2 separate regions of the Homo sapiens genome follow, and region 1 is linked to region 2. Evidence: fine-mapped expression QTL. Tissue or cell type: whole blood. Region 2 holds a variant in brackets; the other region holds the start of a gene. All regions are shown on one strand. Distances are between the middles of the regions.

Region 1 (2,765 bases), 22 kb after region 2:
TACATTAGGAAAGAAACTAGATAAAATAGTTCTTAAATGAGTCACGCAAGGTTGCGTAACAAACCAGCAGAAAAACAGGTAATCAAGTTGTGGACTGCACGTTCAGCATAATAAACATTACTGAAGACAGGCACTCAGTTTTCATAACAAATGTTAGTTTTTCAAACTATTCTAATCCACACAAAGTCTTCCAAAAACATCTGTAGTTACTCTACCATGAAGTTCCTTTTTTTATTAAATGTTTCCACTGGCCTTTTATATCCTCATCTTGTGCTCAAAAAAAAAAGCTCAAAAAACATGGATAACTGCCACAGCTTAAAACAAAGAAAGGATCTCTCATACAGATCCAAAATAAAATGTGTTAAAACCTAAAGACAGGTAAAACAAAGCCAGTATGTTTAATCTATGTAACTCATTTCTGGATCTGTGTAACAGTATAAAGTCTGATAATTAAGCATTACTCATAAAGTAGAGAGTACTATGAAATTTGTTAAAAGAAGGAAAAGGCACAAACTTTTTCATCAGGTATTAAATACAATTGGGAGAATGGTACATATATAATATGTAAGCAAAATGGTAGGAGGTCTTACTAAAACTTCAACTTTGCCCTTTTTAGCACCAATTTTTTTTTTTTTTAAGTATTATCTTTTCAGGATTAAGATTATGAATGTCGAGAACCTAGGCATGTTGGGAATGGAGTAATCGCCGCCTACACTAGTAGGCAAATTTCCCACTCACATTTCGAACCCTAAAATAATTCGGCTTCTCACCTTAAAGTCTAAACCCAAAAATTTACTCACATCTTAACCCATTTAATATTTATAAGATTCAGTTTCTTTTTATCCCAAAACAAAAATATACCCCCAACCTACCTCGTTTACTGTTTGAGTGAGGCCAGGCGTGGTGGCTCACGCCTGTAATCCCAGCACTTTGGGAGGCTGAGGTGGGAGAATCGCTTGAAGCCAGGAGTTCGAGACCAACCTGGGCAATACAGTGAGACCCTGTCGCTATAAAAATAAAAAATAAAGTAATTAGTAGGGCATGGTGGTGCGGGCCTGTAGTTCCAGCTACTTGGGAGGCTGAGGCGGGAGGATCCCTTGAGCCCAGAAGTATGAGGCTGTGGTGAGCTATGATCACGCCACTGTACTCTAGCCTCGGTGACAGGGCAAGTACCTGTCTCAAAAACAATAAAAATAAAAATACCATTTGTGCGGTACGAAGGTGGGGGTGGGGAGGGACCGTTTCTGAAAGTCCTTTTCAAAAATTCAAGATATCAGTTTCAATACTAAAACATGGAAAAGCTGCATAGTCATTTTGTTTACTTACAAATTCTGGCGAAGTTTTAAATCGTAAAACTGTTAGTATCAGGAGAGCCCTTCGAGTATTCTCTCCGCTCCACACCGCTCGGCTGCACCCAGCGGCCGCCGCGGCCCGAATGTCGTCCAGGGTCCCCGCCCATATGACAAACACTTTCCGCCGGAAGGCGCCCGTGGAATCCTGGGACTAGTAGTCTCCGTGCCCTGCCTTCTGCCTTCTCCATCCTTCACCCTCTACTGCCAGGTCGTCTGACCCAGCGACAGGCGCGGTAAATGCGCGACCAAACCGCAGAGGTCCCATGCAATCTCATGCTGACAGGATTACAGGCATCTCTGTAAGACGTCGACCACCCTGACCTGAAATTCATAGACTGAAGAAACTCATAGGACCAACACAGTGAGCAGCAGTACCAAATGATAATGGCAAGCACCATGTCCTGGAACACACCCTCTGTGCCATTAAGAGGAGCATGTAATCCAATGAGTTGCCTAATCTAAACCTCAGTTTGCTCGTGTGTCAAATGGGGACAACGTTACTTACCTCATAAGTTTGTTATTAGTAGATTAGATGACGTATGCAGCATTTCTGTTAAATGACAGTAGTGACAAAAAATAGCTGTTTTGATCTACTAATTTTATAAATGTGAAAATTAAGAGATGGCGAGCAATTTACCCAAGAACATACAATTTGTTGGGGGAAAAATGAAGTAAGTCTAAAATTCCTGTTCTTGACCTACAGCAATTCAGGACAAATCTAACCAAATTTCAAGAAGAAATCTATTCATGTAAAACTCCCTTCCCCTTTCCTCTTTTTTTTCCCATAACAGTCCTGACCAACACACTATTTTACTTATTTTGATTTTTGCCCGACTCCTCCCATAGAATATAATCTCCAAGAAGGCAGGAAACATTTTTTGTCTTTTAGTCTATTTTGTTCACTGCTGTATCCCCAGCACAGAGAACAGGGACTGCCTACTACACAGTAGCTCAAGTATTTATTGAATTAATAATTCCTCATTTAATGTGATTTTTGGTGCCTTCACTTCTCAATCACCCTCTCTTGGCAGAAGTGACAGGATTTGGTAACACTCTTGGATGGTGTTTAATAATTAACTGCAAGTCCTAATTCAACAAAAAGAATACTATATTCCATTCACTTTATTGTGTTTAATTAATTTCAGTATAACATTTCCAGGAATTTTCATTTGTATTGTCATTAAAATATTTTTCTATCATTTGTAAGACTGGGGAATAAATGGAGCCAGCTACTATGTCTTTAATTAACTTCCTCCTGTTTAATATTTTAATCATCTTTTCCTTATTAAAATTGTTTGCCTACTTCATTTGTACTACTAAGTCACAACGGATAGATTTATCTCTTTAAATAAATGAACTTCTGCTTACCCTAAAGCAAAAAGTTCCTGTACAAAAAATTTATTGTTCTAAAAT
Region 2 (2,765 bases):
TTTTCTCCAAATTAATCTACAAATTTAATGCAATTTGAAACAAAATCTCAAGTTTTTTGATTATTGTTGGTTTCTAGTGAAATGGAAAAGTGGGTCCTAAAATTCACAAAGAGCAGCAAAGGATCAAGAAGAGTCAGCATAATTCTAAAGAAGGGGGGCAATCTTTACCAGATATCAAAACTTCTTTAAACTTAAAAATAGGGTGGGCACGGTGGCTCATGCCTGTAATCCCTGCACTTTGGGAGGCTGAGGCGGGCAGATCACCCAAGGGTCAGGAGTTCGAGACCAGCCTGACCAACATGCTGAAACCCCATCTCTACTAAAAATACAAAAATTAGCCGGGCATGGTGGCGCATGCCTGTAATCCCAGCTACTCAGGAGGCTGAGGCAAGAGAATCGTTTGAACCCGGGAGGCAGAGGTTGCAGTGAGCCCAGATTGCACCACTGTATTCCAGCCTGGGTGACACAGCAAGACTCTGTCAAAAACAAACAAACAAACAAAAAACTTAAAGTAATAAAAGCAATGGAACACTAGCACACGAATAGACAAACAGTATACAGAATAGAGAGTCAAGAAATATATGCATACATACATAAGGAAATTGGCCAATTCACAAAAGGGAAATAATGAATTAGTGAATAAATAGCGTGGGGACAACTGACTATTCAAATAGGGGGAAAAATTAGATTTCTGTCTCCTATTCATATAAAAATCAACTCCAGATTAAAGACCTAAATGTAAACAGCAAAACTTTTAAACTTTGAGAATATCAAATATCTTTATAACTGCAAGGGTTTCTTAAATAAGATATACAATACACAAACCAGAAAGGAAAATTTGACAAATGTGACCCTATTAAAAAATTTTAATTTCTACACAAGGTATCAAAATTAAAAGGTAAGTCTCTGACTAGAAAAACATCTGCAACACATAAAACCAGTAAGGAATTAATATTGAGAACACATAAAGAATTCCACAAATCAGTAAAAGACAAATAATGCTATGAAAAGTGGGTAAAGGGATGAATAAGCAGTTCAACAAAGAGGAAATATGAAAACCTAATGAATAT[T/A]AAAAAACAGTCAAAGAAATACAAAAAATAAATTAATGGTGAGATAACATTTCACACCAGCAGACTGGTAAAAAGTCAGGCAATATCAAATGTTGATGAGGATTTAGAGATACAGAGAGCTCTTAAACCCCTAATGGCAATGAAGTAAACCTGTTACTACAACTTTAGAGAGAAATATGGCAAGGAAAATTAAGGCACACACTCTACAAATCAGCAACTCCATTTTTAGACGTATAATAGAGAATCTCATTAATACGCCCCAAAATGTCCATTGCTGTATTGTTTAAAATGAGGAAAAAATTAGAAAATCTAAATGTTCATTAATAAGAAAGTGGGTTTAAAAAATTGTCATATTCTTACAATGTAATATTATGCATAGCAATTAAAATAAATTAGGTTATCTTTAAAAGTTGTAAAATTATAGCAGTGAAGTACTGCTGACCAGGCACAGTGGCTCACACCTGTAATACCAGCACTTTCAGAGGCCAAGGCAGACAGATCGGTTGAGCTTAGGAGTTTAAGACCAGCCTGGACAACATGGTGAAACCTCATCTCTACAAAAAAAAAATACAAAAACTAGCCAGGCGTGGTGGTGCATACCTGTAGTCCCAGCTGCTGAGGTGGGAGGATCACTTGAGCCTGGGAGGCAGAGGTTGCAGTGAGGCAAGATCACACCACTTCACTCCAGCCTGGGCGACAGAGCAAAACTCCGTCTCAAAAAAGAAAAAAAAATGTTTAATATCTTTACTGAGGTGGTGGTTCCATTTGTTATCAAACTTAAAATCTGTACATTAATTGTATGTGACATAGATTATCCTCAATAAACCTTATTGCAAACAAACAGAACTGAAGGTTTTCAAAAATGTATTACTTGGTTACTAGGTTGCAGTCCAAAAGAATCTGCAAAGGTGCCATCACAGATATTTCTATTATCTTACAAATGCTTGACATACACCTTTCCTGTCACAAAGCACACACAGATCCTACACCCCACTTCATTCAGACCTTTTGTAACATATCATCACTGTTCATAGTTGAAATGGCATTTCCCTTACAGTACAAGAAGTGGGACAAACAAGGAAGTTCTTGACAAATCCTCAGAAAAGGTCACATGGCAGGGTATCTGAGAGATCTGGAGGCCACTGTTTCAGAGGCAGGTCAATCTTTTTTTCCCCCCCAAGATAGAATCTCACTCTTCGCATAGGCTGGAGTGAAGTGGTGTAATCTTGGCTCACCGCAACCTCCAACTTCCAGGTTCAAGCGATTCTCGTGCCTCAGCCTTCATAGCTGGGACTACAGCTGCGCACCACCGTGCCCAGCTAATTTTTGTATTTTTAGTACACACAGCATCTCACCATGTTGCCCAGGTTGGTCTCAAACTCCTGGCCTCAAGTGATCTGCCCGCCTCAGCCTCACAAAGTGGTGGGGATTACAGGCATGAGCCACTGCGCCCAGCCAAGCAGGTCAATCTTTTGAACAGTGTCTGATCCCTATCAGGGTATGTGTTCATTAGGAACCTCTGGACTGCATAATGGAAGTGAGGCAGAGCCTCATCCTGAAGGAAAATGCAGTAGCTGGAGACTTTCTACAGCTGTAGGGAAAACCACTCCATAAGCATGCCCCAAAATAGATGCTTTTGATAGTATCTTCTACAAGGAACTGATGAGACCTGTGTGCTTCATATGGCAACAAAAG

Evidence for each region. PIP is the estimated chance that this variant, and not a neighbour inherited with it, causes the effect.
Region 1: it holds the start of TOR1AIP2, and the variant in region 2 is fine-mapped to the expression of TOR1AIP2 in whole blood (TOPMed, PIP above 0.99).

Annotation. Positions count from the first base shown.
Region 1 is chr1:179,876,367-179,879,131 of GRCh38, forward strand. It overlaps TOR1AIP2 (torsin 1A interacting protein 2), which reads right to left and starts at 1,437. Exons shown (of 7, transcript NM_001199260.2): 1 at 1,327-1,437; 2 at 873-1,007. RefSeq lists an enhancer at 1,412-1,771.
Region 2 is chr1:179,854,388-179,857,152 of GRCh38, forward strand. All of the region lies in intron 3 of TOR1AIP2 (torsin 1A interacting protein 2), which reads right to left. Among named protein-coding and RNA genes, the nearest start is that of LINC02818, 19 kb to the left of the region's middle. The variant T/A (reference allele first, on the strand shown) is at 1,071.